Homo sapiens: one gene and its partner. The protein of the gene in region 1 interacts with the protein of each later gene in a biochemical or structural test. Each region holds a gene or a part of one and is shown on either strand. Other genes may lie near its edges.

Region 1 (16,229 bases):
AATCCCCCTCCTGACCTCTGACCCCTTGGGAATTAGTGGGTGGTTCTGGAAGCCCTAAAAACCAGGAGTGCCTCCCATAGCCCAGGAATCTCCCATGATTCCTCTGACCCCAGGCGCTGGCACGAGGCAGCTGGTGAAGGCTTCGTCCACAGGCACTGAGTCCTCAGATGACTTTGAGGAGCGAGACCCTGGTGAGGCTGAAGCAGGGTAGGTCAGGATGGGACAGGGCAGGGCACCAGGCACTCCTGACCCTGTCTCCCTGCAGACCTGGGAGACGGGCTGGAGAATGGGCTGGGCAGCCCCTTCGGGAAGTGGACACTGTCCAGCGCGGCTCAGACCCACCAGCTGCGGCGACTGCGGGGCCCAGCCAAGTGCCGCGAGTGCGAAGCCTTCATGGTCAGCGGGACGGAGTGTGAGGAGGTGTGGCCTGGGTTAATGACCAAATGACCTTTGCTGACCCTTGATCATCTCCCTGACCTGAGATTCCTACAGCCTTTCTGCCCCTGGGACCCACCCTAACCTGATGTCTCCCATGAGCCCCCATTCCTTGAGGATCCTTGTAACCTTCTCTTCCCCTACTGGTCCCTAATGACCTCCCTGTCCCTGTGACCTTCCCCACAGTGCTTTCTGACCTGCCACAAGCGCTGCCTGGAGACTCTCCTGATCCTCTGTGGACACAGGCGGCTCCCAGCCCGGACACCCCTTTTTGGGGTTGACTTCCTGCAGCTACCCAGGGACTTCCCGGAGGAGGTACCCTTTGTGGTCACGAAGTGCACGGCTGAGATAGAACACCGTGCCCTGGATGTGCAGGTGCTGCCCTGACCCTTCATCATCCCCAGAAGTGACCTGACCGAATCGATGGCCTATCACGAACCAGGTGTCTGTTTTTCACCCTCACCCTGCAGGGCATTTACCGGGTCAGCGGGTCCCGGGTCCGTGTGGAGCGGCTGTGCCAGGCTTTCGAGAATGGCCGAGCGTTGGTGGAGCTGTCGGGGAACTCGCCTCATGACGTCTCGAGTGTCCTCAAGCGATTTCTTCAGGAGGTTGGTGCTCAGGACACTGAGGGGGACGCGGGCAGGAGCCCTCCACAGCCCACCCACACTCGTGTTGCGCCCTCCGTTCCACCCCCAGCTCACCGAGCCCGTGATCCCCTTCCACCTCTACGACGCCTTCATCTCTCTGGCTAAGACCTTGCATGCAGACCCTGGGGACGACCCTGGGACCCCCAGCCCCAGCCCTGAGGTTATCCGCTCGCTGAAGACCCTCTTGGTACAGCTGCCTGACTCTAACTACAACACCCTGCGGCACCTGGTGGCCCATCTGTTCAGGTGTGCATGGGTCCCTGAGCCTTGAAACGCGACCCTTTTCCCTGGACATGCGACTACTAACTTCCCTGGCTGACCCCTGACACTGACCTCTGACCTTTGACCTGTGTTTTCTGAACTCTGAACCTTAATCCATGATTCATAACTTTGGGTACTGACCCCTGACCTCCAGTTCTGGATATGTGGCTGCTGGTCTCAGACGACTTACACCTGTGACATGGGCAAGTCACCTCTAGGCTGGCCTGCGTGTCCCACCCTTACCCTCAGACCAATGAGCTTGCATCCTGTACCCTGACCTTTCTCTTCACACCATCCCCAGGGTGGCTGCACGATTTATGGAAAACAAGATGTCTGCCAACAACCTGGGCATTGTGTTTGGGCCGACACTGCTGCGGCCGCCGGACGGCCCGCGGGCAGCCAGCGCCATCCCTGTCACCTGCCTGCTGGACTCTGGGCATCAGGCCCAGCTTGTGGAGTTCCTCATCGTGCACTACGAGCAGATCTTTGGGATGGATGAGCTCCCCCAGGCCACTGAGCCCCCGCCCCAAGACTCCAGCCCAGCCCCTGGGCCCCTCACAACCAGCTCCCAACCGCCACCCCCGCACCTTGACCCAGACTCCCAGCCCCCAGTCCTAGCCTCAGACCCCGGCCCAGACCCCCAGCACCACAGTACCCTGGAGCAGCATCCCACGGCCACACCTACCGAGGTAAGAACCCACTGGGCCCACAGCTATGGAGAGGGCCTTATCTCTGTTCAATTCTCTTACCTTCTCTTTCACCTTCCTTCCTTTTTAAAATTTCCTTCATTCTCTTCCTCCCTTCCTCATTTAACTTATGTTCATTCTGGAAGGAATAGTGAGGAATGAGCAGTGGGCAGTGATGATGTAACAAAAGGGGACAGCCCTGCAGAGGTACTAACATGGGTGATCATTCATTCCTCCAACAGAATATTTATTGAACATGTATTTTGGGCCAAGCATTGTCGTAGGCATTGCAGATACATCCAGGAGCTAAATATCCAAAGACCCTGCCCTCTCAGTGCCTGTGTTTTAGTGGGGAAAGAACAACCATATACATGACACAAAGTCAGTTATCTGGAATGTGATGAGGTGATGATGATAAGGGTAATGGATCATGAAAAGGTAGAGTAATGGCTGGGCGCGGTGGCACACGCCTGTAATCCCAGCACTTTGGGATGCTGGGGCAGGCAAATCACCTGAGGTCAGGAGTTCGAGACTAATCCAACCAATAAGGAGAAACCTGTCTCTACTAAAAATACAAAAATTAGCCAGGTGTGGTGGTGTGTACCTGTAATCCCAGCTACTCAGGAGGCTGAGGCAGGAGAATCGCTTGAGCCCAGGAAGCAGAGGTTTTAGTGAGCCGAGAGCATGCCACTGCACTCCAGCCTGGACAATAGAGCAAGACTTTGTTTCAAAAAAAAAAAAAAAAAGTGGAGTAAGACACATGACACCAGGGAGCAGCACGGTGGGAGGTGGAGTTTGTATCACTAAGTAGGATGGTGGGGGCACGTCTTAGAGAGCAGACGGACTTGAGCAAAGACTGGAAGGACATGAAGGAGTGAGCTGGCAACATGGAGATCAGGTGAAGGGTGTTCCAGGCAAAGGGAACAGCCAGTGCAAAGGCCCTGAGGTAGGATCGTGCCTGGTGTGTTAGGACGCAGCCCCATCCTGTAATGAATGACAGGAAGGTGGTATGAAGTGATACCAAAGAGGAGTGGGCCCAGGTGGCTCTGCCAGCTATCCTGACCTTGCATCTGCTATTCACAGGCACAGACCACCACTGAATGTGCACCTGCTGTGCAGGGGACACTATAGAGGCTTCCTGTTGTCCTCTCCACAGTCCTGAGAGGTAGACAGTGTTAATGAAAATCATTTACAGATTAAACAATGAAGGCTCTGAGCAGTTAATGGCCCTAAAAGGGGACTGTAAGCAGTTGGAATCTTTTATTTTTTTTTGGAGACAGAATCTCACTGTGTTGCCCAACTGGAGTGCAGTGGTGCGATCTCGGCTCACCACAACCTCCGCCTCCCGGGTTCAAGCAATTCTAATGCCTCAGAGACAAGGTTTCGCCATGTTAGCCAGGCTGGTCTCCAACCCCCTACCTCAAGTAACCCACCCACCTCAGCCTCCCAAAGTGCTGGGATTATAGGCGTGAGCCACCACACCCGGCCGCAGTTGGAATCCTTTATTTTTTTAGACGGAGTTTCATTCTTGTTGCCCAGGTTGGAGTGCGATGGCGTGATCTCTGTTCACCGTAACCTCCACCTCCTGGATTCAAGCGATTCTCCTGCCTCAGCCTCCAGAGTAGTTGGGATTACAGGCATGCACCACCACACCCAGCTAATTTTTTTTGTATTTTTAGTAGAGTAGGGGTTTCTCCATGTTGGTCAGGCTGGTCTCAAACTCCTGACCTCAGGCGATCCGCCCTCCTCAGCCTCCCAAAGTGCTGGGATTACAGGCATGAGCCACTGCACCCGGCCTAGAATCTTTTTTTTTTTTTTGAGATGGAGTCTCGCTCTGTCACCCAGGCTAGAGTGCAGTGGTGCCATCTTGGCTCACTGCAAGCTCTGCCTCCCAGGTTCACGTCATTCTCCTGCCTCAGCCTCCCAAGTAGCTGGGACTACAGGCACCCGCCACCACACCCGGCTAATTTTTTTGTATTTTTAGTAGAGACGGGGTTTCACCGTGTTAGCCAGGATGGTCTCGATCTCCTGACCTTGTGATCCACCCGCCTCGGCCTCCCAAAGTGCTGGGATTACAGGCTGGAGCCACTGCACCCGGCCGCCTGGCGTAGAATCTTTAACAAAGGTCACCAGTCTGGATCCAGAGCTCAGCTGTGAACCAGGAAGATAGCAGCACCCGCTGCTCCGGATTGCTAGAACAGTCCATGCCCAAGGCCTGTGCTGCTGGTATCTTGCTGCATCTGCCATTCCTGAGAGCAAGGATCTCTCCTGCAGCAGCCCAGAGCTGGGAAGCGGCTGCTGGTGAACTGTGGGTCTCTGAGAGCTGGAATGCCTCATAAAGTGCTCGGGACAGTGTCTGATGTGTAGACACTGCCAACCATTTAGCTAAGGATGGAACAGTAAAGTTGGTAAGGTTGCAGAGAGCAGCCCAGGATAGTAGTTCAGAGGCACCACCTGGTCCTAATGTGGAGAGGGCTGAGCCACTCCCTGGGCTGGCCATTTGCTAAACAAGGATTTTCCCACCCTCATGGAGCCCACGGTCCAGACTCAATGAATGACACTGCTCTATGCTGGAAGGGCAAGCAGTACACTTATTATTATTTTTGAGACGGAGTCTCATTCTGTCACCCAGACTGGAGTGCAGGGGCATGATCTGAGCTCACTGCAATCTCCACCTCCCAGGTCCAAGCGATTCTCCTGCCTCAGCCTCCCTAGTAGCTGGGATTACAGGCATGCACCACCACGCCCGGCTAAATTTTGTATTTCTAGTAGAGACGGAGTTTCACCATGTTGGCCAGGCTGGTCCCGAACTCCTGACCTCAGATAATCCACCAACCTCAGCCTCCCAAAGTGCTGGGATTACAGGCATGCACCACCATGCCTGGCCAAGCAGTACACTTATAAGGGCATCGTCTATCCCCAAACACCAAAACTGCAAAGGATGACAGGTGCACAGTCAGTGGTGGTCCATGCCCTGTGCATAGGAGGAGTTCAATGGTAGTCCACACCCAGTGCAGAGTAGGTGCAAAGTCAGGGGTGGCTGGCAGAGCCACCTGGGCCCACTCCTCTTTGGTCTCACTTCCTACCACCTTTCCCTCATTCATTACAGGGTGGGGCTGCGTCCTAACATACCAGGCATGCTCCTACCTCAGGGCCTTTGCACTGGCTATTCCTTTTGCATGTCCAGGAACAAGCCCTTGGCTCTCCAGGAATCTCAAAGAACTGGGATTTTAGTGTTGGGGTCTCATTCTTGGGTTTCTCCCTGCAGATTCCAACTCCACAGAGTGACCAGAGAGAGGACGTGGCTGAAGACACCAAAGATGGGGGAGGGGAAGGTGAGTATGTTAGAGAGAGGCTCAGGAGTTCTGGGGGTGCCCTGGCCCCAGGGTGGCTTGCTAAAAGATGACTCCTGGGGGGATATACAGAGAACTTGGAGGTGCTCTGCACTGACCACCCACCCCGTACACAGTGTCCAGCCAAGGCCCAGAGGACTCACTCCTGGGGACACAGTCTCGTGGCCACTTCAGCCGCCAGCCAGTGAAGTATCCCCGGGGCGGTGTGAGGCCTGTAACCCACCAGCTGTCCAGTCTGGCCCTGGTGGCTTCCAAGCTGTGCGAGGAGACCCCCATCACATCAGTGCCCAGAGGGAGTTTGCGGGGGCGGGGGCCCAGCCCTGCAGCTGCCTCCCCTGAGGGCAGCCCCCTGCGCCGCACCCCGCTGCCCAAGCATTTTGAGATTACCCAGGAGACAGCCCGGCTACTCTCGAAATTGGACAGCGAGGCTGTGCCCAGGGCCACCTGCTGCCCGGACGTCCAGCCTGAGGAAGCCGAGGACCATCTCTGACCACCCTGGCACCTTAAATAAGGAAGAGGCCCAGATTGTGAAGACGGACCCATATATCCCTACCTCCCACCACCTAGTGGCCAAACACCCCGCCAGGAGTTCAATGCTGGGAGAGGTCCAGAGGGTTCCTATAAGGAAAAACTATTTAATACATGACCTAGGGGAGGCCTAAAACCCTTTTGGGGATAATGTCCCAGAGTCCCCCCACTAGACACAGGTCACTGCCAAGCATCAGGGCCACTCGGGCTCAGAGGTCACTCAGGGTCAATACTCAGGGTCAGTGCAGGTTATGAGATCCTTGGGGTCCACCCTAGTCTCTGACACCTGGGACAGGGGTGCTTTTGCTACTTTGGTTGTGGTCACTCCCCCACACCTGCCTGCCTCCTTCACGGACTCGAAGTGACCTTCCTGGAGGAGGTGGGCAGCTCAGACTCCACATGCTGGTGGTGCCTGAGGTCTGATGGCCTCTAATAAACTGTGTCCTATATGCCCTTGGGTGCATCTCTGCTAGGGGAGAGGCCAGCATGGGTAGCACTCCTTGCCCCCATTTTACAGATTAGGGGAATCAAGGCCTCTTTTTTTTTTTTTTTTTTTTTTTTTTTTGAGACGGAGTTTTGCTCTGTCTCCAGGTTGGAGTGCAGTGGCACGATCTCCGCTCACTGCAACCTCCACCTCCCGGGTTCAAGCGATTCTCCTGCCTCAGCCTCCCGAGTAGCTGGGACTACAGGCGCCTGCCACCATGCCCGGCTAATTTTTTTGTATTTTTAGTAGAGACGGGGTTTCAGCATGTTGGCCAGGATGGTCTCGATCTCCTGATCTCGTGATCGTCCCGCATCGGCCTCCCAAAATGCAGGGATTACAGGCGTGAGCCACTGCGCCCGGCCTCAAGGCCTCCTTCTTGCATCATCAAACACCCTGCAGCACCTACGTAAAGGCAGTTGGAGCTGGGTCGCAGCACCCGGCTGAGTCACGCCAGCCCGGCCCTCCCGGAGCTCTGCGTCCCCGATCCGGTCCTGCATAATCAAATACAGTATAACAAAGTACCGATAACCGGGACAATGGGGCTGTGTGCTCCGGACCGTGGGAGCCCGGGGCCGCCGCAGGGAGGCCGAGGGAGGAAGCCACAGGGCAGGGCAGGGCAGGGCCGGGCTTTGCAGGGGGCAGCGCTGTCCCAGGGTGAGGGGTACGGGGGCGGGATTGCAAAACCCTAGCGTGCGCCCGATGATCAGCTGGGGCCGCAGAGGTGGGCCTCGCACAGGAGGCCGCGGCTCGCTGATACTGCGAGCTGGCAAAGCCGAAGCTGGGCGGGGGTCCGGGCGGTGGGAGCCAAGTCGGATCAGGGAGTGGCTTGTAACTCGGCGGCCGATTGGACACGAAGAAGAGAGCGGGGTGGGGCTGGGAGGGTTGGGGGTCCGGAGCGGGGGCGCGGACCCAAGACCACCTGGAGCTCCGCCCGGGCAGCGCGGGGTCACGGCGGGAATTTTCGGGTCGCCGAGTGACTCAGCCCCGCAGGCTCGAAACTGCGGGCGCATGAGGTGTGCAGGTACCGGGGTGGGGGTCCCGCGCCGGAAATAGGGGCGACTGAGGGGCCGCGAGGCGGGGAGGAAACAGGGGGGCTGCGGTTCCGGGCGACACCGCCCCCGACGCGGCCGTGGAGGCGGGGCTCCCCCAGGTGGCGGGGCGGGGCAGGGCTCCCCCAGGTGGTGGGGGCGGGGCGCCGGGGAGACCCCGCCTCCCGCGCCCTCTCAGCAACCCGCACAGGGCGCACCCGGACGCTCTACCGCTCCCGCCGCAGTCGCCGGGCCATGGGCCTCGAGCCCGCCCCGAACCCCCGCGAGCCCGCCTTGTCTGCGGCGTGACTGGAGGCCCAGGTGAGGCCTGCACGGACGGGAGGCGGGCGGGTGCGGGCCTGGGCCCGGGGGAAGGGCGCGGCACGTGCCTGCGGGGCCAGGACGCCGCCCTCTGATCCCTTAACCCCCTACCCCTTCCCCAGTCTGGAGACGCCTGGAGGCCCGGCCATCCATCCCTTCCCCAACCGCTGTCTTTGTCCCGGAGACCGCCAGTGTCCTCCGTCCCACCCGGAACAGCCTATTGCCCCGCCCGCTTGGGAAGCACTCGCGCCCAAATCCCGCCGACTAACTTCTGGGGCCGCCTCTCTGTCCACTCCGATCACCTCCACGCCTCGGCACCGCCCCCTCGCAGGGTTCTAGCAAGTGACCTCACCCTTGTGTGCACACGCTCCCGGGTCTCTGCTCCCTACACTGACTCCGGCACCAAAGTGATCCTCCCTCATCTCTTCCCGCAGCTCACACCCCTTTGTCTTTCCCTAACCCTCCTCTCCCCACAACCCAAACCGGGTCACACATTGGCGGCAGGTGGGCTGGGATTCGACCATAGATGGGTTTTGTTTCACTTCTGGTTCAAAAACCTATTGACTTGGGTGATGTCTTGCACACAGGTCTTATTAGTAGGTAAGAAACAGCTGCTCCTCCACCTCCACCCCAGCCCCATGGAGCTTGCTTTTTCCAGGCCACCGTAGTCCTCACCACTGCCACTTTGCTTCGAGGTATCTGAATTTGAGACCCTTGTCCTTCCTGCGCTGACCCTCCTCTGCAGCTGCCGCCCCTCCCTGTGTCCTTCCAAGAAGTGCCACATGCACTGATCTCTTGTGTCCCCAGATGGTCATCATGGGCCAGTGCTACTACAACGAGACCATCGGCTTCTTCTATAACAACAGTGGCAAAGAGCTCAGCTCCCACTGGCGGCCCAAGGATGTGGTCGTGGTGGCACTGGGGCTGACCGTCAGCGTGCTGGTGCTGCTGACCAATCTGCTGGTCATAGCAGCCATCGCCTCCAACCGCCGCTTCCACCAGCCCATCTACTACCTGCTCGGCAATCTGGCCGCGGCTGACCTCTTCGCGGGCGTGGCCTACCTCTTCCTCATGTTCCACACTGGTCCCCGCACAGCCCGACTTTCACTTGAGGGCTGGTTCCTGCGGCAGGGCTTGCTGGACACAAGCCTCACTGCGTCGGTGGCCACACTGCTGGCCATCGCCGTGGAGCGGCACCGCAGTGTGATGGCCGTGCAGCTGCACAGCCGCCTGCCCCGTGGCCGCGTGGTCATGCTCATTGTGGGCGTGTGGGTGGCTGCCCTGGGCCTGGGGCTGCTGCCTGCCCACTCCTGGCACTGCCTCTGTGCCCTGGACCGCTGCTCACGCATGGCACCCCTGCTCAGCCGCTCCTATTTGGCCGTCTGGGCTCTGTCGAGCCTGCTTGTCTTCCTGCTCATGGTGGCTGTGTACACCCGCATTTTCTTCTACGTGCGGCGGCGAGTGCAGCGCATGGCAGAGCATGTCAGCTGCCACCCCCGCTACCGAGAGACCACGCTCAGCCTGGTCAAGACTGTTGTCATCATCCTGGGTAAGTGGGGCCCCCAGGGGGCAACAGGGACCCTGCTTCCCCCTATCTCCCACAAGACACTGCGAAGCAATGAACAAAACAAGCTACCTGATAGAGGGTGATGGGGGATGATTTAGGTGGGGAATGTCCTCCAAGGAGGTGATAATGTATGTGAGCAGAGGCCTGAATGCTGAGGATAGGAACAGAGAGCCTTCCAGGCAGAGGAAACGGAAAGTAAAAACCTCAAGGCAGTACGAGGCCAGAGCCTCTAAAGAGGAAAGTGGGCTTGTGAGGAGGAGAGATCAGCAAGGCCTTAAGGGGCACGGACAGGAGTCTTATTTTGAGTTTCATGGGAACCCCTTAAGAGTTTTTAGCAGTGCTAGCCGGGCACAGTGGCTCACGCCTGTAATCCCAGCACTTTGGGAGGCCGAGGCGGGCAGATCAGCTGAGGTTGGGAGTTCACGACCAGCCTGACCAACATGGAGAAACCCCATCTCTACTAAAAATGCAAAATTAGCCAGGTATGGTGGTGTGTGCCTGTAATCCCAGCTACTCGGGAGCCTGAGGCAGGAGAATTGCTTGAACCCAGGAGGCGGAGGTTGTGGTGAGCCGAGATCACACCATTGCACTCCAGCCTGGGCAACAAGAGCGAAACTCCAGAACTCTGTCTCAGAAAAAAAAAAAAAAAAGGAGTTTTTAGCAGTGCTAAGCCTGTTTTAACAAAAAGCCTTTAAATTGTTTTTTAATCTATATGTATTTTTAATTTTTTTTTTTTTTTTTTGAGACAGAGTCTCGCTCTGTCACCCAGGCTGGAGTGCAGTGGCGCAATCTCGGCTCACTGCAACTTCTGCCTCCCAGGTTCAAGTGGTTCTCCTGCCTCAGCCTCCTGAGTAGCTGGGACTACAGGTGCGTGCCACTATGCCTGGCTAATTTTTCTATTTTTAGTAGAGACCAGGTTTCACTATGTTGGCCAGGATGGTCTCGATGTCTTGACCTCGTGATCCACCCGCCTTGGCCTCCCAAAGTGCTGGGATTACAAGCATGAGCCACCACGCCCGGCCCATATTTTTAAATTTCAAAATTTATTTTTGTTTTTAAGATACAGGATCTTACTCTTGCCTAGGCTGGATTACAATGGCTCCATCATAGCTCACTGCAGCCTCAACCTTCCGGGCTCAGGTGATCCTCCCGCCTCAGTTTCCTGAGTAGCTGGGACTACAGGCATGTGCCACCATACCTGGCTAATTTTTTATTTTTTGTAGAAACGAGGTCTCACTATATTGCCTAGGCTGGTCTTAAACTCCTGGCCTCAAGTGATTGTCCTGCCTCAGCCTGTCAAATGCTGCAGTGAGGTGTGATCGTGCCGCTTCAGTGAGGTGTGATCGTGCCACTGCACTCCAGCCTAGGTGACAGAAGGAGACCCTGTCTCAAAAAAAAACACACAGGCCAGGCGCAGTGGCTCATGCCTGTAATCCCAACACTTCGGGAGGCTGAGGCGGGCGGATCACGAGGTCAGGAGATCGAGACCATCCTGGCCAACATGGTGAAACCCCATCTCTACTAAAATACAAAAAAAAAAAAATATAGCCGGGCATGGTGGCACACACCTGTAGTCCCAGCTACTTGGGAGGCTGAGGTGGGGGAATTGCTTGAACCTGGGAGGCAGAGGTTGCAGCAAGCCAAGATTGTACCACTGCACTCTAGCCTGGCGACAGAGCGAGACTCCATCTCACACACACACACACACACACACACACACACACACACACACACAAAATGTCCAGTGCCTTGGCCACTGTGTACCAATTAGCATAGATGTCCCATCTTAGCAGGCCTTCCTGTCACACTGCAGAATCAGGGAAACAAGCAGCTCTTGCACTGCAAACTTCACCACTATTGCTCGAGCTCTGGAGACCACTCCAACCCCAAACTGAGAGCTGTAGGTGCCGGGCCTCTGACAGCTTGCCCTGCTCACTTCCGCCTCTGTCCCACAGGGGCGTTCGTGGTCTGCTGGACACCAGGCCAGGTGGTACTGCTCCTGGATGGTTTAGGCTGTGAGTCCTGCAATGTCCTGGCTGTAGAAAAGTACTTCCTACTGTTGGCCGAGGCCAACTCCCTGGTCAATGCTGCTGTGTACTCTTGCCGAGATGCTGAGATGCGCCGCACCTTCCGCCGCCTTCTCTGCTGCGCGTGCCTCCGCCAGTCCACCCGCGAGTCTGTCCACTATACATCCTCTGCCCAGGGAGGTGCCAGCACTCGCATCATGCTTCCCGAGAACGGCCACCCACTGATGGACTCCACCCTTTAGCTACCTTGAACTTCAGCGGTACGCGGCAAGCAACAAATCCACAGCCCCTGATGACTTGTGGGTGCTCCTGGCTCAACCCAACCAACAGGACTGACTGACTGGCAGGACAAGGTCTGGCATGGCACAGCACCACTGCCAGGCCTCCCCAGGCACACCACTCTGCCCAGGGAATGGGGGCTTTGGGTCATCTCCCACTGCCTGGGGGAGTCAGATGGGGTGCAGGAATCTGGCTCTTCAGCCATCTCAGGTTTAGGGGGTTTGTAACAGACATTATTCTGTTTTCACTGCGTATCCTTGGTAAGCCCTGTGGACTGGTTCCTGCTGTGTGATGCTGAGGGTTTTAAGGTGGGGAGAGATAAGGGCTCTCTCGGGCCATGCTACCCGGTATGACTGGGTAATGAGGACAGACTGTGGACACCCCATCTACCTGAGTCTGATTCTTTAGCAGCAGAGACTGAGGGGTGCAGAGTGTGAGCTGGGAAAGGTTTGTGGCTCCTTGCAGCCTCCAGGGACTGGCCTGTCCCCGATAGAATTGAAGCAGTCCACGGGGAGGGGATGATACAAGGAGTAAACCTTTCTTTACACTCTGAGGTCTCCAAAACATTTGTTGTTATCAATTCAGTGTTTCTGTCCCTGTGTCCCGGAATTGTCTACCTTGGCCCAAGTCCAGAAAGGATCTTTCAACATGGTATCTCCTTGGCCCTGTGCTCGCTCTTCTTCAGTCTGGCTGGCTGTTATTCCATCTCTCTCTTTTTTTTTTTTTTTTTTTTTAGACAGAGTCTCACTTTGTAGCCCAGGCTGGAGAGCAGTAGCACAATCTCAGCTCGCTGCAACTTCTACCTCCCAGGTTCCAGATTCTTGTGCCTCAGGAGAAGCTGGGATTACAGGCGCGTGCCACCACGTCCAGCTAATCTCTGTATTTTTATTTTTATTATTTATTTATTTGTTTGTTTATCTTTGAGAGGGAGTCTCGCTCTGTCACCCAGGCTGGAGTGCAGTGGCTTGATCTCAGGTTACTGCAACTTCTGCCTCCTGGGTTCAAGCGATTCTCCTGCCTCAGCTTCCCGAATAGCTGGGTTATAGGCATCTGCCACTACACTCGGCTAATTTTTGTATTATAGTAGAGATGAGGTTTCACCAATGTTGGCCAGGCTCGTCTCAAACTCCTGACCTTGAATGATCCACCCACCTCAGCTTCCCAAAGTACTGGGATTACAGGTGTGAGCTACCGCGTGCCTGACTAATCTTTATATTTTTAGTAGAGATGGGGTCCCACCATGTTAGTCAGGCTGGTCTCGAACTCTTGACCTCAAGCGATCCACCTACCCACCTTGGCCTCCCAAAGTGCTGGGATTATAGGCATGAGCCACCACGCCTGGCCCCTCTCTCTTACTGGGGTCTTGAATCTGTTTCTCTCTGCTTCTGTTCTTTGTTTCCCCCATCTGTTGCTCTGCCTCCATCTCACTGCCTGTCTCCCTGTCTTTCTCTGCAGCTCAGAGTAGTGTCTGGACCCTATGAGCCCCCTCCCTCCCCACTGCCCTTTTGTTTGAGCCCTGATGGTTCAAGGTCACGTGCCCAGCCGTTTCTATCCCATTCCCCACCACCTGTATTCATACTTCCAGCCACAGGTTGTGGGGTTCAGGTAGTGGGATGCAGGATTTGAGCATGACCATTTCTCAAGCTCTTCTGATGTGCCTGGCATACTGGTAAACACTTTAGGTGCTTTTTTTTTTAAATTTTTTATTTTTTTGTGATGGAGTGTCACTCTGTCCTCCAGGCTGGAGTGTAGTGGTGCAATCTCGGCTCGCTGCAACCTCCGCCCCCGGGTTTCAAGCGATTCTCCTGCCTCAGCCTCCCAAGTAGTTGCGATTACAGGCACCTGCCACCGTGCCCGGCTAATTTTTGTATTTTTGTTAGAGATGGGGTTTCACCATCTTGGCCAGGCTTATCTTGAACTCCCGACCTTGTGATCCACCCGCCTCGGCCTCTCAAAGTGCTGGGATTACAGGCATGAGCCACTGTGCTGGGCTTTTTTTTTTTTTTTTTTTTGAGACGGAGTCTTGCTCTGTTTCCCAGGCTGGACTGCAATGACGTGATCTCAGCTCACTGCAACCTCTGCCTCCCAGGTTCAAGTGATTCTCCTGCATCAGCCTCCCGGGTAGCTGGGATTACAGGGATATGCCACCACACCCAGCTAAATTTTTTATTTTTAGTAGAGATGGGGTTTCACCATGTTGGCCAGGCTGGTCTCGAACTCCTGACCTCAGGTGAGCCGCCCGCCTCAGCCTCTCAAAGTGCTGGGACTATAGGCGTGAGCCGCCATGCCTGGCCTTTTTTTTTTTTTTTTTTTTTTGAGACAGAGTCTCACATGATCTCAGCTCACTGCAACCTCCGCCCCCTCCAGGTTCAAGCGATTCTTCTGCCTCAGCCTCCCAAGTAGCTGGGACTACAGGCATGCACCACCATGTCTGGCTAATTTTTTGTATTTTAATAGAGATGGGATTTCACCATATTGGCCAGGCTGGTCTTGAACTCCTGACCTCATGATCCGCCTGCTTTGGCCTCCCAAAGTGCTGGGATCAGTCTTTCTGATTTTTATGTGAGAACACTGATTCAGACAGGTTGTGATCTGGCCCATGGTAAACACAGCTTGGAGATGGCACATACAGGCCCCGAGGGACCAGAGAGGCCCCTAGGAAAGGGACTTCAGATTCCCACGAAGCCCAGGGTTGGTCCCAAGCTCAGCTGGGCTTTCCCTACCTCACCCCACAGCACCCAACCCATGAGTGCCAGATCCATCATGAGCCCCCTCTGAGATGCTCAGGGAGGCCCCCTCCAAGGCACAGTGTGTGCCAGGATGTCATTCTCTGCTCCCACCTCACCAGTGAGGAGGTGGGGTTATGTCCCTACTTTTGAATCCCATGCTGAATAACAGCTAGAATTTGAACCCAGGTCACTCAGAGATGTGAGCCGCCATGCCCAGCCACCTGTGCCAAATTCTTAAACCACTGAAATATGCATTGTCAAAGAACCCAAAACTCCCAGGTCCTTCTATATTAAATGGCCCTGGCCGAGCACTTTGAGTGCCAAGGCTGCCAACTAATTTCTATGCAGTAGAGACCCCTGATGACCTCCAAATGGCAACAGTGGGACGGGTGAGGTGGCTCATACCTGTAATCCCAGCACTTTGGGCGGCCGAGGCAGGCAGATCACCTGAGGTCAGAAGTTTGAAACTAGCCTGGCCAACATGGTGAAACCTCATTTCTACTAAAAATGCAAAAATTAGCCGGGCGTGGTGGTGGGTGCCTGTAAGCTACTCAGGAGGAGGCTAAGGCAGGAGAAGTGCTTGAACCCAGGAGGTGGAGGTTGCAGTGAGCCAAGGTCACGCCACTACACTCCAGCCTGGGCAACAGAGTAAGATTTCTGTCTAAAAAAAAAAAAAAAAAAAAAAGGCAACTCTGTCTCAGGCGCTCTGAGCTGGCTGTTCACATCAGCTCCTCCAGGTTTTAACCTGCACCCCGTGGGTCTCCTTCGAGACCATTTCCTCTTGTCGATCTCCCGTCTCCACCAAGTGGCTTCAAATTTTTGTCTCTGCTGGTCCCTGAAGCTTTCAGTGCCCACCCCTCCAAGTTCTCTGAAGGATACTACTTTGTTGGGGTTGGGGGCAGGTTTTGCTCTCTCACCCAGGCTGGAGTGCAGTGGCACAAACACAGCTCACTGTAGCCTCGACCTCCTGAGCCCAACTTATCCTCCCGCCTCAGCCTCCCAAGTAGCTGGGACCATGACCAGCTAATTTAGCTATTTTTTTAATTTTTATTTTTGTAGAGATGGGGTCTCACTATGTTCCCCAGACTGGTCTTGAACTCCTGGGCTCAAGTAATCTCCCACCTCAGACTCCCAAAGTGTTGGGATCATAGGTGTCAGCCACTGCACCCAGCCTGAAGGCCACTACTGTTCAGGCCTCCTGGGCAGTGCTGTGCTTGTGGGTGACCTTTTGAACAGGCACTGGTCTCCGTGGCTCCCATGCAATCTATTACTTTCTGTCATTGGAGCCAAGTGTCGGTTTCCTTCATCAGAGAGCTTTCCCTATTGTCCAGACACTCGGTCAATGTCTTTCATTTTTCACTCCCTGCCGTCCCCTTTGGAGTCTCCCGACGCTCTCCAATCCAGCCATACCAGATGGTGTTTGAATTTCCTCCCCAGCAGCAATGGAGAGAACGTGGGCCCCACCCTGGAAGGGCTCCCAGCCAGCAGGCTGAGGACCTTTTACTGAGCCCACATCTGGAGACTGTCCTCATAGCAAATAGGCTCCAGGAGGTTCTGTGACTTTGGAGAAGAGATTCATGTCCAGGCCATTACTTTTTTTTTTTTTTTTTTTTTTTGAGACCTGGTCTCCGTCAACCAGGCTGCAGTGCAGTGGTGCAATCATGGCTCACTGCAGCCTCAAATTCCCAGGCCCAAGTGATCCTCCCACTTCAGCCTCTCAAGTCCCAAATAGCTGGGACCACAGGCGTGCACCACCACGGGGTCTCACTATGTTGCCCAAGCTGGTCTCAAACTCCCGTGCTCAAGTGATCCTCCCGCCTCTGCCGCCCAAAGTGCTAGGATTACAGGCATGAGCCACCGCCCAGTTCCTTTTCTTGTGCACTA
Region 2 (15,416 bases), on another chromosome or scaffold:
TCAACCTCAGGTGATCCGCCTGCCTCGCCCTCCCAAAGTGCTGGGATTATAGGCATGAGCCACCTCGCCCAGCCTGCAGGGTGCTTTTAAGAGGCTGGAAGGGGGTTGGGTGCGGTGACTCATGCCTGTAATCCCAGAACTTTGGGAGGCTGAAGCAGGCAGATTACTTGAGCCCACGTTTTGAGACCAGTCTGGGCAACATAGCATGACCCCATCTCTACAAATAATTTTTAAAAAATTAGCTGGGCATAGTGGCGCATGCCTGTGGTCCTAGCTGCTTGGGAGGGTGAGGTGGGAGTATCGCTTGGTTCTGGGAAGGTTGAGGCAGGAGTAAGCTGTGATTGCACCACTGCACTCCAGCCTGGGTGACAGAGTGAGAGACCCTTTTCTAAAAAAAAAAATTAAATAAATAATAAAAAAGCAGAAAGGAAGCTGGTGCGGCAGGGTGCAGAGTGCTGGAGATAGGTGCCTGCTAAGAGAGGGAGAGCAAGGCAGGGCTAAGCCCAGGGGCCTAGAGGCACTTGGATTCATCCTGGGTGTGAGGAAGAGGCTTTTTGGAGGGTGAAGCAGAAGAGGTGATGTGACCTGATATGATATGTTTTTAGAAGGATGATGCCAGGTGCTCTATAGAGATTGGATTGAGGCCAGGCACAGTGGTTCACACCTGTAATCCCAGAACTTTGAAAGGCTGAGGCGTGTGGATCACCTGAGGTCAGGAGTTCGAGACCAGCCTGGCCAACATGGTGAAACCCCATCTCTACTAAAAATACAAAAATTAGCCAGGCATGGTGGTGGGCAACTGTAATCCCAGCTACTCGGGAGGCTGAGGCAGGAGAATCGCTTGAACCAGGGAGGCGGAGGTTGCAGTGAACCGAGGTTGTGCCACTGCACTCCAGCCTGGGTGACAGAGCGAGGTTCCGTCTCAAAAAAAAAAAAAAAAGAGATTGGATTGGAGGCAGGGAGGGCTGGAGTCTTCCACACAGGAGGTGGTGTGAGCTGTGCCAGGGCTGAGGTGGGTGGAGGGAGTGAGGAGAGGGAGGGATTGTTGAGGCAGTGGGGAGCTATAGTGAGTCTCAGGGATGACTCCCCCCAGCTCACGCTGGTGGGATGGACAGGTGGTGGGTATCCATCTGAGAGATGGAGAGCCCTCTGCAAATCCAGCATGTCCTGGTTCCAGGTGGGGCCGGGGTGGTGAGGAGCTGGGCTGGTGGGCGGCCTCGGTGACAGAGCCTCGCCGCCCCAGCGGGGCAGCTGGCTGGGACCTCGTCGGTGGAGATGTACCGCCAGGCACTACTATGGGGCTGCCGCTGCGTGGAGCTGGACGTGTGGAAGGGACGGCCGCCTGAGGAGGAACCCTTCATTACCCACGGCTTCACCATGACCACAGAGGTGCCTCTGCGCGACGTGCTGGAGGCCATTGCCGAGACTGCCTTCAAGACCTCGCCCTACCCCGTCATCCTCTCCTTCGAGAACCATGTGGACTCGTGAGTGAGCCCCTGGCATGAAACCCCATGGACCGGGGGACAGTCTTCCAGCTTCAGTGCTGTTGGACTGCTCAGGGACCTCCAACCCTGCGAACGGCCACTGACATGTCCCGTAGACCTCAGCTTCCTCTCTGGGGGAGGGATCTCTGACCTCTGACCTCGGTTCCGCAGGGCAAAGCAACAGGCAAAGATGGCTGAGTACTGCCGCTCCATCTTTGGAGACGCGCTACTCATCGAGCCTCTGGACAAGTACCCGGTACGGGAGCTCGGAGCGAGGGGGGTGGCATGGGGGCCAGGGTGCTGCGGACCCGGTCCAGGGCCCTGACTCGTCCATGCCTGCCCAGCTGGCCCCAGGCGTTCCCCTGCCCAGCCCCCAGGACCTGATGGGCCGTATCCTGGTGAAGAACAAGAAGCGGCACCGACCCAGCGCAGGTGGCCCAGACAGCGCCGGGCGCAAGCGGCCCCTGGAGCAGAGCAATTCTGCCCTGAGCGAGAGCTCCGCGGCCACCGAGCCCTCCTCCCCGCAGCTGGGTAGGCCCCAGCCCGGCCCGCCACCCTGACTTGACCCTAGCCTCTGGCCTCATGCTCCAGGCGCCGTGACACTTCATCCCAGACCCCCAGCCCACCCTCCTGCCTCGCTGTGCGCCTGTTCCCACAACCGGCCTGTCTCCTCACCACCTGTCGGCTGGTGTGGGGCCTCTGACCCCTGACCTCAGGTGCACGTCTCACCCAGCTGCACCCCAACTCCTGACTCCCAACCTCAGCCTCTCACCTCTCAGAGCCTTCCCACAACCCGGTGATGGCTCTGAAGGCTGACCTCTGACCTCAGTAAACCACATCCCACACTGGGTGTGACCTCAGACCCCTAAGCCCGCATTGAGTTCACCTGCCCAGTTGGTTATCATTTCAGCTGACCTCTGACCTCTCACCCCTGACTGTTCACCTCACTATGCCCCCTCCTTAGACATGGCTCTGACTTACCCCTGACCTGTAACCTCTCTATGTCATCCCTTACCCCGCTATTAGGGCTGTGGTATGCTACTTCCTGACTTCTCACCCCACTGAACCACCCTATCTGCCTCCCTGCTGAATATCACTGCAGACCTTTACCTTTGACCTATGACCCCTCTCAACCCATACTGGGTTAATACCATCTGACCTCGACCTCTTGGCCTCTCCCCAAGCCACACTGCCCTGAGAGTACCCCTTGAATTCCCCACTGAGTCACCTCGGCACACACTGGGAAAAACCCCTCCAGACTTCCTAAGCAGCTGTGTGGTCCTGACCCCTCACCCTGTGGCCCTGTCCTCTGCAGGGTCTCCCAGCTCTGACAGCTGCCCAGGCCTGAGCAATGGGGAGGAGGTAGGGCTTGAGAAGCCCAGCCTGGAGCCTCAGAAGTCTCTGGGTGACGAGGGCCTGAACCGAGGCCCCTATGTTCTTGGACCTGCTGACCGTGAGGATGAGGAGGAAGATGAGGAAGAGGAGGAACAGACAGACCCCAAAAAGCCAACTACAGATGAGGTCAGGCCCACAGGGTGGGCAGGTCGGGGAGGTAGCATCTATTTACCTCCCAGGGGGCTGGGTCTGACCATCAACAAGACTGACATCACCCCTGCCTCCTGGGGCTCAGTGTGGGTGTGAGTGAAGGTGGGAGGAGGGCTCTTCAGTCATCAGGCATGGAAACAAGCATACAGTTCTGCTGGTGATGTGGCCTGGGAGGTGCGAGTTAGGGTACAGAACTGGCAGAGGATAGGGAGTCTACCCTGGGCAGGGAGGTGGGGCAGGGAGACCTCAGGAAGGGGGACAGCATGTACAAAGGTCCTGGGGCAGGGCCAGGGGGTGCAGGAGCGGGGAGCATTGTCATGGGGAGCATTGAGTAGCTGTGAGGAATGGTACAGAAAAAATCAGTCTGAGCTGGGCGTGGTGGCTCACACCTGTGATCCCAGCTACTCGGGAGGCTGAGGCATGAGAATCCCTTGAACCTGGGAGGTGGAGGTTGCAGTGAGCTGAGATTGCACCATTGCACTCCAACGTGGGCTAAAAAGGGAGACACTATCTCAAAAAAAAAAAAAAAAAAAAAAGACATCATTGCTATAAAGACAATTACTGGAGCAATTAGTGAAATTTAAAGATGGACTACATATTAGATAATATGTTAATGTTTTGTTTCCTGAATTTAATTATTGTATTGGAGTTATAGAAGAGAATGTCCATATATGCTGAAGTATTTATGGGTAAAGGGTCATGATGTCTATAATTTACTCCCAAATGATTCAGTAAAAGTAATGATAATTATAACACCTATATGGGCCAGGCGAGGTGGCTCATGCCTGTAATCCCAGCACTTTGGGAGGCTGAGGTGGGCGAGTCACCTGAGGTTGGGAGGTTCCAGACCAGCCTGGCCAACATGGTGAAACCCCATCTCTACTAAAAATACATAAATTAGCCGGGCAAGGTGGCGGGCGCCTGTAATCCCAGCTACTTGGGAGGCTGAGGCAGGAAAATTGCTTGAGCTGGGTGGTGTCCAGGGCGCATCAGTGAGACCCCGGGGAGAAGACTGTCGGCACCACCAGCAGTGTGTATATAGTGCTGGGAAGAGGGTCAGCACCTCCTTCATGGGGGGCAGGTGAGGGAATGGCCAGCTGTGGCGGGAATGGCACTGCTGACCCTGGGTTGGGGCCCACAGGGCACAGCCAGCAGCGAGGTGAATGCCACTGAGGAGATGTCCACGCTTGTCAACTACATCGAACCTGTCAAGTTCAAGTCCTTTGAGGCTGCTCGAAGTGAGTGGGGGTGGGTGGCAGGCATGGGAGCTTGCCCAGCTCAGCCCTGCCAGGTCTGACGCCCTTTCTTGGCTCACCCCTAAGAGAGGAACAAATGCTTCGAGATGTCGTCCTTTGTGGAGACCAAGGCCATGGAGCAACTGACCAAGAGCCCCATGGAGTTTGTGGAGTATCCTTTGAAGGTGCTGTGGGCGGGCAGGCCAGGGTGGGGCGCTCGGAGGCCGGCTCCGGTGTTCTGTCCCCACATATGCCACCTGCACAGGGTGCTGGCCCTCCGGCGGCCCTCCTGCACCCTGGCCTGGGGCTTGGGCAGATCCAGGCAGTCTCAGGGGGCATGGCTAGGCTAAGAAACAGAGGCCGGGTGTGGGGGTCACAGGAGCACCTGGCTGAGGCCGGAGGTGGAGGCTGATGGGGTGGGCCCTGGCACCTGTGTGGCCCCTGACCACCAATCTCAGATACAACAAGCAGCAGCTCAGCCGCATCTACCCCAAGGGCACCCGCGTGGACTCCTCCAACTACATGCCCCAGCTCTTCTGGAACGTAGGGTGCCAGCTTGTTGCGCTCAACTTCCAGACCCTCGGTGAGCCCTGGCCCCCTCCATCTTGACCCCGACCCTCAGTCTTACTGACTTCTGACCCACGATCCTGCTGGTCTTGCCTGAATGGACCTCTGACCCTGTCTCATCCCAGATCCCAGGGGAACCCAGCTCCCGACTCACCCCGCCTCCTGCCCTTGGCTGATACCAGACCCCTCCCCTGTCTGATCTGTCCTGGATCCGGACCCTGATGCCATTTGAGCCCGCCCCTGACCCTGGACCTTGGATGCCATCTGACCTGATGATCTCCCATTCCCCACATGGCACCGTCCTGCCTGATCCCTGCCCCTGCTCGACGTGCCCGTGGCACCCCAGATGTGGCGATGCAGCTCAACGCGGGCGTTTTTGAGTACAACGGGCGCAGCGGGTACCTGCTCAAGCCGGAGTTCATGCGGCGGCCGGACAAGTCCTTCGACCCCTTCACTGAGGTCATCGTGGATGGCATCGTGGCCAATGCCTTGCGGGTCAAGGTGGGGCTTGCGGGCGGCTCAGGCCAGGGGTGTCCTGGGGGCAGGACTCTCAGCATCCGCCTCACCCTCCTTGGCCCACCCCCAGGTGATCTCAGGGCAGTTCCTGTCCGACAGGAAGGTGGGCATCTACGTGGAGGTGGACATGTTTGGCCTCCCTGTTGATACGCGGCGCAAGTACCGCACCCGGACCTCTCAGGGGAACTCGTTCAACCCCGTGTGGGACGAAGAGCCCTTCGACTTCCCCAAGGTGAGCCTGGCCCCTGCACCCGCCCAGGCACAGGCAGATCCAGCCCAGACCGCCCCGACTCTCAGGTGGGAGAACAGGAACCAGGCACACCGTTGGCGACTGGGGATCAGAAAGTGGGGGGTGCCATGGGTCCCCCAGGACCTGCCTGTCCGAGCGTCAGTCTCCCTGCCCTCCTTAGGGTAAGAGACCAGGGTGAGAAGGTGAGATGGGGGTTGGGGGGTGTCAGCTAGACGTCTTGTGTCCCCTGCGAGGAGTGGACACAGCCTACCCTGTCTCCGAGGCAGGAGCTGAGGTCACAACCCCAAGCTCATATCCGCTCTTCAGCACCCCGCACGGCCCTGCATGGACGCGGCCTCTGCTCCCAGCCTGGGCATGTGTGTTCTTGGTTTCCTGCTCATGACTCACTCCCGTTTCTAAACTGGCAATGACCAGAACTGTCTGTGGGGGCCCTGGAGGGGCCTGGCTGCCTGTCATCTTGCCTCAGGGTCCTGATGGCTGCAGTCATCCATTAGGCCAGGACATGGAAGTGGGGTCAGCCATCAGCTTAGTGGCAATGGTGACTGATGGTCAGTAGGTCAGCTCGTCTGAAGGTCTGCTTTGTTAAGCTTTGATGGCTGTGGTTAGCTGTGGCCTGGTAGCCACAGTGGCCCAGGGTCAGCCCTGTGGCTCAGCTCCAGTCTGGCCCACAGGTGGTGCTGCCCACGCTGGCTTCACTTCGCATTGCAGCCTTTGAGGAGGGGGGTAAATTCGTAGGGCACCGGATCCTGCCTGTCTCTGCCATCCGCTCCGGTGAGGCCTTGGTGGGCTCTGGGCAGCACAGCGGGCAGTGGGTAGGGCCCCCACCTGGCCCAGCAACCCAACGTTGCCTTCCTGACCACCCAGGATACCACTACGTCTGCCTGCGGAACGAGGCCAACCAACCGCTGTGCCTGCCGGCCCTGCTCATCTACACCGAAGCCTCGGACTACATTCCTGACGACCACCAGGGTGAGCTGGGGGTGGGCGGGGCCTGCCTGGCCAGGGAGTGTGAGGGACAAGGGCCACCCCCAGGGCCTGGGAGTGGCCGAGCTGGATGGCCCCGACTGAGTAGGGAACTGAGTAGGGAACAGATCTGAGGACAAGCTCTGGAATTCCTCATTGAGACCAGAGGTGGCGGGTGGGGGTGGCCTGGGGGCTCTGTCTCTGAGACCTTGGCCTTCTGCCTCCCCCCAGACTATGCGGAGGCCCTGATCAACCCCATTAAGCACGTCAGCCTGATGGACCAGAGGGCCCGGCAGCTGGCCGCCCTCATTGGGGAGAGTGAGGTGAGCCGGGGCAGGGCAGGGCTCAGGCTCACTGTGACCCAGGGGGCCGCTGGACATGACTGCTGTGGCCACATGAGGAGGGGGCTTCTGGTCTCTCTAGCGCAGTAGGCTTGGCAGCCCTGGGATTTTGAGGAGATGAAAACCACCCATTTGCATTCAGGAGGCCTTCAGGTCACACCTGGGCTGGAATTCCTCCAGCTCCATGTAGGCTTGGAGTGGGGGTACAGGGGTCTCAGCCACTTCATCAGGGCAGTGCGAAGCCACAGAAGCTGTTCAGACGTGGTGTCCTGGGAGTCATGAGGAGGGCAGTGGCTTCCGTGGGGAGGGGTCAGGCACGGAGGTTCACCTGCGCTTCCAGATCCAGTCCCCCCAGGGCCTGCGGCAGGCGGGCGGGGAGAGATGACTGCAATTAGGGCTGCCTGGAGCTGTTAGCGGAGAGGCTGGTGCCCACTCTGCGGTTGAGTCCTCTGTTGATTTAATCAGGAGCTCAGCAGCAAGGAAAATGAGCGACTGTAGGCAAGGCTGGGGGACACAGGCAGGGGAGGAGAGGAGGCTTGGGGCTGGGCCAGGCCTTTCCAGAACAATCTGGGAGTTACTGAGCACATGCAGTGGGCTGGCATTATGTTATCTTCCCCACAGCCCATGTGGAAAAGGGGTTTAGAAAGGCTTGATTTATAGCTCTTCTCATGCAGACAGCCTCCTGTTACAGAGCAGTCCAGCAGTGGCTTGGACTAAGGGAGGCTGACAGGGGTGCTAGGGGACCCAGGAGGTGGTAGAGGACAGAAGGGTCTGGAGGGAACAGCATTTCTGAAAAGAGCATTCTCCTTTCTCCCTATAGGCTCAGGCTGGCCAAGAGACGTGCCAGGACACCCAGTCTCAGCAGCTGGGGTCTCAGCCGTCCTCAAACCCCACCCCCAGCCCACTGGATGCCTCCCCCCGCCGGCCCCCTGGCCCCACCACCTCCCCTGCCAGCACCTCCCTCAGCAGCCCAGGTAAGGAGTGGCCTGGGTCGGGGGTGGGCTGCAGGGAGGCACCCCCCACCCTGTCCTCCAGCTCCTCACAGGGCCTCTGCTCCCCAGGGCAGCGTGATGATCTCATCGCCAGCATCCTCTCAGGTAGGGGGCGGGGTACCTGGAGGCAGGGGGCTGCCTTGCAGGTTCCCCCACCCCCCGCCCACCTTTGCTCTGCCGCTCCCAGAGGTGGCCCCCACCCCGCTGGATGAGCTCCGAGGTCACAAGGCTCTGGTCAAGCTCCGGAGCCGGCAAGAGCGAGACCTGCGGGAGCTGCGCAAGAAGCATCAGCGGAAGGCAGTCACCCTCACCCGCCGCCTGCTGGATGGCCTGGCTCAGGCACAGGCTGAGGGCAGGTGCCGGCTGCGGCCAGGTGCCCTGTGAGTGTCTGGGCCGCCTGTGTGCTATGTGTGCTGGGTGTGCTGATGTGAACATGGGGGTCGGTGGGCATGGAGAGATGGCAAGAGCTGCTCCTTGACCCCCAGGGAGGAGGGTTCAGTGCAAGGATGGAGGAGGCTTTCCACACCAGGCGTCCCTGTGTCCCCCAGGGAGTGACATCTCTTTTGAAGTCCATGAGGAGCATGTTGCCCAAACAGGCTCCCATCACTTGGGTGGAGCTAACAGGCCTCCTGGTTTGCATAACAGACCTGGCCCCATGGGATGGTGTCTGCCATCGCTTGCCAGGATGTGCCCCCCTACACACCCTCCCCATCCCAGTCCATGTGACGGGCCCAGGCATCACCCAGAGGGGTTCTCCTCGCAGAGGTGGGGCCGCTGATGTGGAGGACACGAAGGAGGGGGAGGACGAGGCAAAGCGGTATCAGGAGTTCCAGAACAGACAGGTGCAGAGCCTGCTGGAGCTGCGGGAGGCCCAGGTGGACGCAGAGGCCCAGCGGAGGCTGGAACACCTGAGACAGGTAGGGGGCCTGCAGTGGCCAGGGAAAGCCTGCTGGATAGACCCGTCGTCAGCCCGGCATCACCTGTCAGCTCCCTGTGTCCACAGGCTCTGCAGCGGCTCAGGGAGGTCGTCCTTGATGCAAACACAACTCAGTTCAAGAGGCTGAAAGAGATGAACGAGAGGTGAAAGCCGAGGATTGTCTATGGGAAGGGCTGGGGACTTCTAGTACCAGAAGGAGGGCAGAGTCTGTGCTTCTGCCGCTGACCCCTCCTCTTCCCCTGCCGGCTTCTCCAGGGAGAAGAAGGAGCTGCAGAAGATCCTGGACAGAAAGCGCCATAACAGCATCTCGGAGGCCAAGATGAGGGACAAGCATAAGAAGGAGGCGTAAGGGCACCGGGACCGGGGGCCATCTGGGTACTGGGGAGGCAGGGCAGGTGTCTGGGCCCCGAGCCATCCTGCGTTGCTCCCGTGCAGGGAACTGACGGAGATTAACCGTCGGCACATCACTGAGTCAGTCAACTCCATCCGTCGGGTGAGTCAGGCTCCCGGGCCACCCTACCCCACCTCCCTTCCTTCACTCATCAGACACCCATCTCCATGCCTGGCCTGGTGCCACGTTGCCCTCAAGGTTCTTCTAGGGCCTTTCTCAAGTGCCCAACAGCCCCAGGGTACCCACATCATACCCAAAGCCAACTGTCTGTACCAGTGTCCCTGGCTTTGGCGTCCTTGGGCCCAGTCCTCTCACAACCCTGATACATTGCCCTGGGAGCCTTCGCCCACCTGACTTCTTTTTCTTTGAGACAGAGTCTCACTCTGTCGCCCAGGCTGGAGTGCAGTGGCGCGATCTTGGCTCACTGCAACCTCTTGGGTTCAAGCAATTCTCTTGCCTCAGCCTCCCGAGTAGCTGGGATTACAGGCATCCGCCACCATGCCTGGCTAATTTTTTTATTTTTAGTAGAGATGGGGTTTCACCATGTTGGCCAGGCTGTTCTCGAACTCCTGACCTCAGGTGATCCGCCCGCCTTGGCCTCCCAAAGTGCTGGGATTATAGATGTGAGCCACTGCACCCGGCCTCGCCCACCTGACTTCTATACCCAGCCAGAGCCTCGAGGCTCTAGCCCCTCCCTCAGGGCCCCTCAGCTGAGCCCTTGCCCACCCCTGTAGCTGGAGGAGGCCCAGAAGCAGCGGCATGACCGTCTTGTGGCTGGGCAGCAGCAGGTCCTGCAACAGCTGGCAGAAGAGGAGCCCAAGGTGAGGCCATGGGCGAACAGGTGGGCAGACGGGGTGCAAGGCAGCCAGGCCTCGCCTGTGATGCCCATCCTTCTCCCACAGCTGCTGGCCCAGCTGGCCCAGGAGTGTCAGGAGCAGCGGGCGAGGCTCCCCCAGGAGATCCGCCGGAGCCTGCTGGGCGAGATGCCGGAGGGGCTGGGGGACGGGCCTCTGGTGGCCTGTGCCAGCAACGGTCACGCACCCGGGAGCAGCGGGCACCTGTCGGGCGCTGACTCGGAGAGCCAGGAGGAGAACACGCAGCTCTGAACTGGCTGAGCGAGGTGGCCACAGGGCCAGGGCGGGCGCTGGGTGGAGGGCAGGAGGCAATGACACTAATGCTTTTTTTTTTTTTTTTTAACTTTTTATCTAGAAATTTTATTTTTTTAAACCCGGGGCAAGTACCTCAGCTAACTCCCTTCATCCTCCTGGGGCCCCTCCTTCCTGCCCTCAGTCTTAGGTTAGGGCCTTGGTCAGGGCTTTGCTCCCTGTGACACCCACACCCTCGAGCTAGCAGCGTCTCCTCCCTTCCCCGGGAGAGCTGGCTGGAGACTTGGAGCTCCGGGAAGTAGGAGTCACATTTTTTTCTCTATTCTTTGGGGATTTTTTTTACATGAATAAAAGTGGATTTCAGGGACCCTGTGTGCAGTGTGATTTGGGGTGACAGGACTCTGGGCCCTAAGTTTCCTCATCTATAAAATGGACTTTGGGCATTTGGTGGGGTTGAGGTCACGCCTCCAGCCAAGGGCTGCTGGGTTGAACCTGAGCTTGCCCTGCCGAGTCTGCTGAGCTTCCGTGGCCTTCTGCTTGTGCCCTCTGCCCCCAAGCCGCTGTTCCTGTTCCCCCATCCCCATGACTTTCGTCTCTCCGAGGCTCTCCCTGTTCTCTCTTTTCTGAGGCTCAGGCCTCTGCTTCAGGAAGCCTTCCCTGCCCCGCTTCCTGTGGCCTGATATGACCCAAACGCCTAGTATCTTCCGCTGGGGCTGCTCTGGGCCCCCGACAGGCAGTTGACTCTATCAGGTGATGGATCGGCCAGGGTGGAGCAGGGCAGCTCAGAACCTGCCCAACACCGGGGGACCTGGGTCTTCAGAAATAGGTGGGCAGTAGGCCTGCCTGTGACTCTGGGGGAAGGGAAGTGGACAGTCACAGACACGCAGGGGCTGGGCCACCCAGCATCCCCTCATCCCTGTGAGGGAGATGTTATGCCTGTTTTACAGATGAGGAGACTGAGGCCCGGAGCCATCTGTCGTGTGCTAGGCCACAGCTAAGTCAAGACGTCCTGACCTGGAGGCAGGGCAGGCCTGGACCCTCCGTGGTGGACTGTCTTCAGCCAGCCTGGACCTGTCCCATGCCTCAAGACCAGCGAAAAGTGGCAGAGAGCCCACAGTGCGGGCTCCAGGGCGGGGCTGGGCTCGCAGCAGGGTCGGCTTGGCACCTCTTCAAGGCCTCTCCCAGCTTCCTGGCTCTTCCCAGGCTGCCCGCCTGCATCCCTCCTCCAGGGGAAGGCGGCCTCTTATCTGGGCTTATCTCCTGCCAATTGAGTATCTTCTTTGCTTTGTTTTTGCTGCAGCCTCAGGCAAACAGATGGGGTGGGGAGGCCAGGGAAACAGGCTCCGGAGTAGGGCCCTCCTCCCTCAGGGTCAATGCAATGGCCCCAGACTTCCTCACTTCTTCTGTGGGACGCTGCCCTATCCCCCAGTTCTGCTCACTCCAGTGTATTCCGTATCTAGGCTCCTCAGCAGCCAACTCCCACCTTCCTGACTCTAGCTGGTGTCCACTGAGGGACACACTCCAAGTCAGTTCCCAGGTCCTCAAATACCAGCTGAATGTCTAACTTCTGGGTGTGACATTCCAGCCCCTAGAAGCCTGGCCTCTGCTGCTCCCCTGTCCTTCCATGGGTCCACTCCTCCTTGCGCCGGGGGGGATGACCCTCACCTCACCTTCCGGTCGCAGCTCTAGCTGCCTCCTCCCTGAAGCCCTCTCTGACTGCCCTGCCGATTCCGGGCCCTCGGGAGCTTCCGCGAGCAGGGCCGTGGCGCAATGCATCTCTGTGCCCGGCACCAAGAACCGGCCCGGGTTATAGGGGGCGCCAATAAATCTTTCTGGAACGGAGCCCCCGCTCTGTCCGGGTCCCCGCATGAAGCCTCAGTTTCCAGCGACCGCGCTGCTGCCAGCCTGGCTCAGCCGCTCCCTCCCGCCCCGCGAGGTACCCGGGCGGCGCTGGCCCCGGGCCGGCCACACAGTAGCTGCTGGAAAGGGCTGACCCAAATAGGAGCGAGTGACCCTCTCTGGGGGGCCGCGGCACGGTTTGCAGAGCGCGGGATCGGGCTGCCGGCAGCGCTGCGGTCCCAATGCGCGTGCTGGGGACTTGGACCTGGGCCGCGCAGCCCAGGCCCGCGAGCCGCCGCGACCCCTTCCGTCTCTGTCGCTGGATGTCAGGCAGAGCCTAAGTTTCCCTCGTAAGACAGCGGCCTCTTTTGAAAGTATCCGTGAGAGCACTACCCCGGCCTGCCGGAGCCCCAGTCGACGCACAGAAAAGCCTCGGCGGCACAGACGCGGGCTTTATTAACATTTGGTAGTGAGCACGGCCCCCAGGGCATCGCGGGGGCTCGGGTCCCGGTGACGCAACGGTTAAACCTGGCTCGCGACTTAGCGCAGGCGCCTGGGGGAAAGCCCGGAGCCTGAGGGCGGGGCCACGGAGCCACTTCCGGCGGCTGTGGGCGGAAAACCCAAAACTTCCGATGGGACCAAGCCTTCCGTGGCTTCACACGCACCGGAAGGGAATCTGGGTCAGCCCTCCCTCCAAAGGAGACAGCACGGATCCTCTTTTTGCATAGGCCTGAGGGAAGTACTTCCGCCCATATTCAAGATGGCTGCCCAGGGCAGTGGGAACGGGTGGAGTTTCGGGATGTGGAGCGAAGGTCACTGGGAGGGGGCGGAGCTTCCCCTGCCCAAGTTCCGATCCCACCAGGACTGGAAGACTCGCGTCCAGCTGGAGCTTTGCCGCATCTGCGTTGCTGTGCCCGCGCTCTTCGGGCGAGGAAGTCCCTTCTGGTGGAGGGAGAAAAGGGTTACATGAGTTAGATTACCATGGCAGCTCGAGCCAGGCTCTCCACTTCCGTGAGCCTTCCTCTAAGTGAGATCGGGGGGGAGATAATGAAGGCCACAACTCCCAGGAGGCTCCACGCCGGGCGGTCAGGGACGCTCGCGAGGACGCATGGGCCCCCAGGAATGGGAACTGGTTAGATCCCAGGAACTCCGTGCCGGAGACGGGAAGAGAGGATGCCTAGGGCCCTAAATGGAAAGGCCAGAGCTGGAGACCTAGCACCCAGAAGATGAGACCGCAATTCGAGAATCAAAGGGCCGGGAGCGATGGTGAGCGCCTGTAATCCCAGCACTTTGGGAGGTTGAAGCGGGAGGATCCTTTGAGGCCAGGAGTTCCAGGCTGCAGTGAGCCGTGATCGCACCACTGCACTCCAGCCTGGGCGACAGAGCGCACAGGTGCCAGCAAGGAGCACAAATACCAGCATGCCTGGTCTTCCAAGAATTCGGGGAACCCAGGAGCTTTGGCCTGGAGTGGGATCTAGACTACAGATCCCAGCATGCCCTGTGAGACACACACACACACACACACACACACACACACGCCTGGAGTGGGATCTAGACTACAGATCCCAGCATGCCCTGTGACACACACACACACACACACACACACACACACACACACGCCTGGAGTGGGATCTAGACTACAGATCCCAGCATGCCCTGTGACTGACACACACACACACACACACACACACACCTGGAGTGGGATCTAGACTACAGATCCCAGCATGCCCTGTGACTCTCTCACACACACACACACACACACACACACCTGGAGTGGGATCTAGACTACAGATCCCAGCATGCCCTGTGACTCACACACACACACACACACACACACACACACACACACACACGCCTGGAGTGGGATCTAGACTACAGATCCCAGCATGCCCTGTGACTCTCACACACACACACACACACACACACACACACACACACACGCCTGGAGTGGGATCTAGACTACAGATCCCAGCATGCCCTGTGACTCACACACACACACACACACACACACCAGGCGGGGGAAGAGCTGGGGAGTGGGGGCGGGGAAGTCTTGTGACTACAAATCCCAGAATGCTCTGGAGCTAGGAAGGAACAGGACGGCTTTGGGGAGGGGTCGTGGGACTCCAGATCCGGGCGTGCCTTGGGACAAGGCAGGGACAGACCGGCGGGGGGCGGCCTGGTACTTCAGGTCCTGGCACGCTGGGGACTGGCGCTCACCTTAAAGGAGTCCACAAACTCGTCACTCATCCTCCGGAGCTCGCGGCCATAGCGCTGTGCTGCCCAGAGGTTGGGGGGCGCCGAGCGCGAGCGGCCCCGAAAGGGGCTGGGCTCCTCCCCCATCCCTTCGTCGTCCTCCGTCCCCGCGGGGTAGGAGCTGTGGCGACTCCGGATCTCCACAGCCCCAGCGCCTGCAGAGGGTCAGTGGGTAGGGGGGCGACGTTAATCTCAGCTCCTCTAAGCCCCTGGCCCTGCCTGAACCCTCCCCATCAGCTCTGCAGGCCCACTCGTGGGTCTTCCAGGGGCGCATCACAGCCCACCTCTCAGAGCCCCAGTCCCTTGTATGTGAATCGAGGGGAAGCTCAGGGGCCTTTGGTGAAGATTTAGGTTAACTTCTCATTAATCCCACGAATCCTTACCGAGTGCCAATAATGGGTGAGGCCCTGTGCCTAGCACAAAATAAGGGCATAAGAAATACTAGTTACATCACAAGGTCAGGAGATCGAGACCATCCTGGCCAACATGGTGAAACCCTGTCTCTACTCAAAACACAAAAATTAGCTGGGCATAGTGGCACGTGCCTATAGTCCCAGTTACTCGGGAGGCTGAGGCAGAAGAATCGTTTGAACCCAGGAGGGAGAGGTCGCAGTGAGCCGAGATCACGCCACTGCACTCCAGCCTGGGCGACAGGCTTTTTTTCTCAAAAGAAAAAAAAAAAAAGCAAGAAGTATTATTAGTGCAAGACCTTCATGGGGCCTCCTGGCAACCCCTGGGTTGGTAGCTATTTCATAGTGTCTGTTCTACATCGGAGGAAGCCAATCCCTTGGATAGGAAAGTGTCCTGCCACAGCCGGCAGGATTGAATGCCTCCTCTGCAAGGGACCTGCAGAGCCCCTGGAGAACAAGAACTTGGCCGCTACATGTCCGCATCCCCCACAGAGCCTTCTCTGGAGACAGTGTCTGGAACTGTTGACGTTTTTAGGTACCATTGATGGTGCACTTACGTGTAGGCCGAGACATTCCCTTATTATCCT

Evidence for each region.
Region 2: the proteins of LPAR2 (region 1) and PLCB3 form a complex in vitro, tested with the Homo sapiens proteins (one study listed by BioGRID).

What each region holds. Positions count from the first base shown.
Region 1 is NC_000019.10:19,619,606-19,635,834, reverse strand, and holds LPAR2 (lysophosphatidic acid receptor 2), read left to right. Parts: upstream 1-7,614; 5' UTR 7,615-7,743; intron 7,744-8,550; 5' UTR 8,551-8,559; coding exon 8,560-9,292; intron 9,293-11,265; coding exon 11,266-11,579; 3' UTR 11,580-12,180; downstream 12,181-16,229. Other genes in the region: GMIP (GEM-interacting protein), read left to right, coding at 114-191, 266-420, 622-810, 906-1,043, 1,132-1,328, 1,645-2,032, 5,298-5,364, 5,499-5,872. UniProt on the Homo sapiens protein: Receptor for lysophosphatidic acid (LPA), a mediator of diverse cellular activities. Seems to be coupled to the G(i)/G(o), G(12)/G(13), and G(q) families of heteromeric G proteins. Plays a key role in phospholipase C-beta (PLC-beta) signaling pathway.
Region 2 is NC_000011.10:64,257,230-64,272,645, forward strand, and holds the end of PLCB3 (1-phosphatidylinositol 4,5-bisphosphate phosphodiesterase beta-3), read left to right. Parts: intron 1-1,243; coding exon 1,244-1,484; intron 1,485-1,655; coding exon 1,656-1,740; intron 1,741-1,828; coding exon 1,829-2,015; intron 2,016-2,799; coding exon 2,800-3,005; intron 3,006-4,170; coding exon 4,171-4,267; intron 4,268-4,351; coding exon 4,352-4,436; intron 4,437-4,722; coding exon 4,723-4,847; intron 4,848-4,956; coding exon of another isoform or gene 4,957-5,030; exon of another isoform or gene 5,031-5,137; intron 5,138-5,177; coding exon 5,178-5,332; intron 5,333-5,417; coding exon 5,418-5,579; intron 5,580-6,268; coding exon 6,269-6,368; intron 6,369-6,461; coding exon 6,462-6,566; intron 6,567-6,791; coding exon 6,792-6,883; intron 6,884-7,721; coding exon 7,722-7,875; intron 7,876-7,962; coding exon 7,963-7,998; intron 7,999-8,080; coding exon 8,081-8,273; intron 8,274-8,656; coding exon 8,657-8,810; intron 8,811-8,896; coding exon 8,897-8,973; intron 8,974-9,085; coding exon 9,086-9,175; intron 9,176-9,265; and 7 more. Other genes in the region: BAD (bcl2-associated agonist of cell death), read right to left, coding at 12,980-13,108, 14,384-14,574; integral membrane protein GPR137, read left to right, coding at 13,430-13,432. UniProt on the Homo sapiens protein: Catalyzes the production of the second messenger molecules diacylglycerol (DAG) and inositol 1,4,5-trisphosphate (IP3).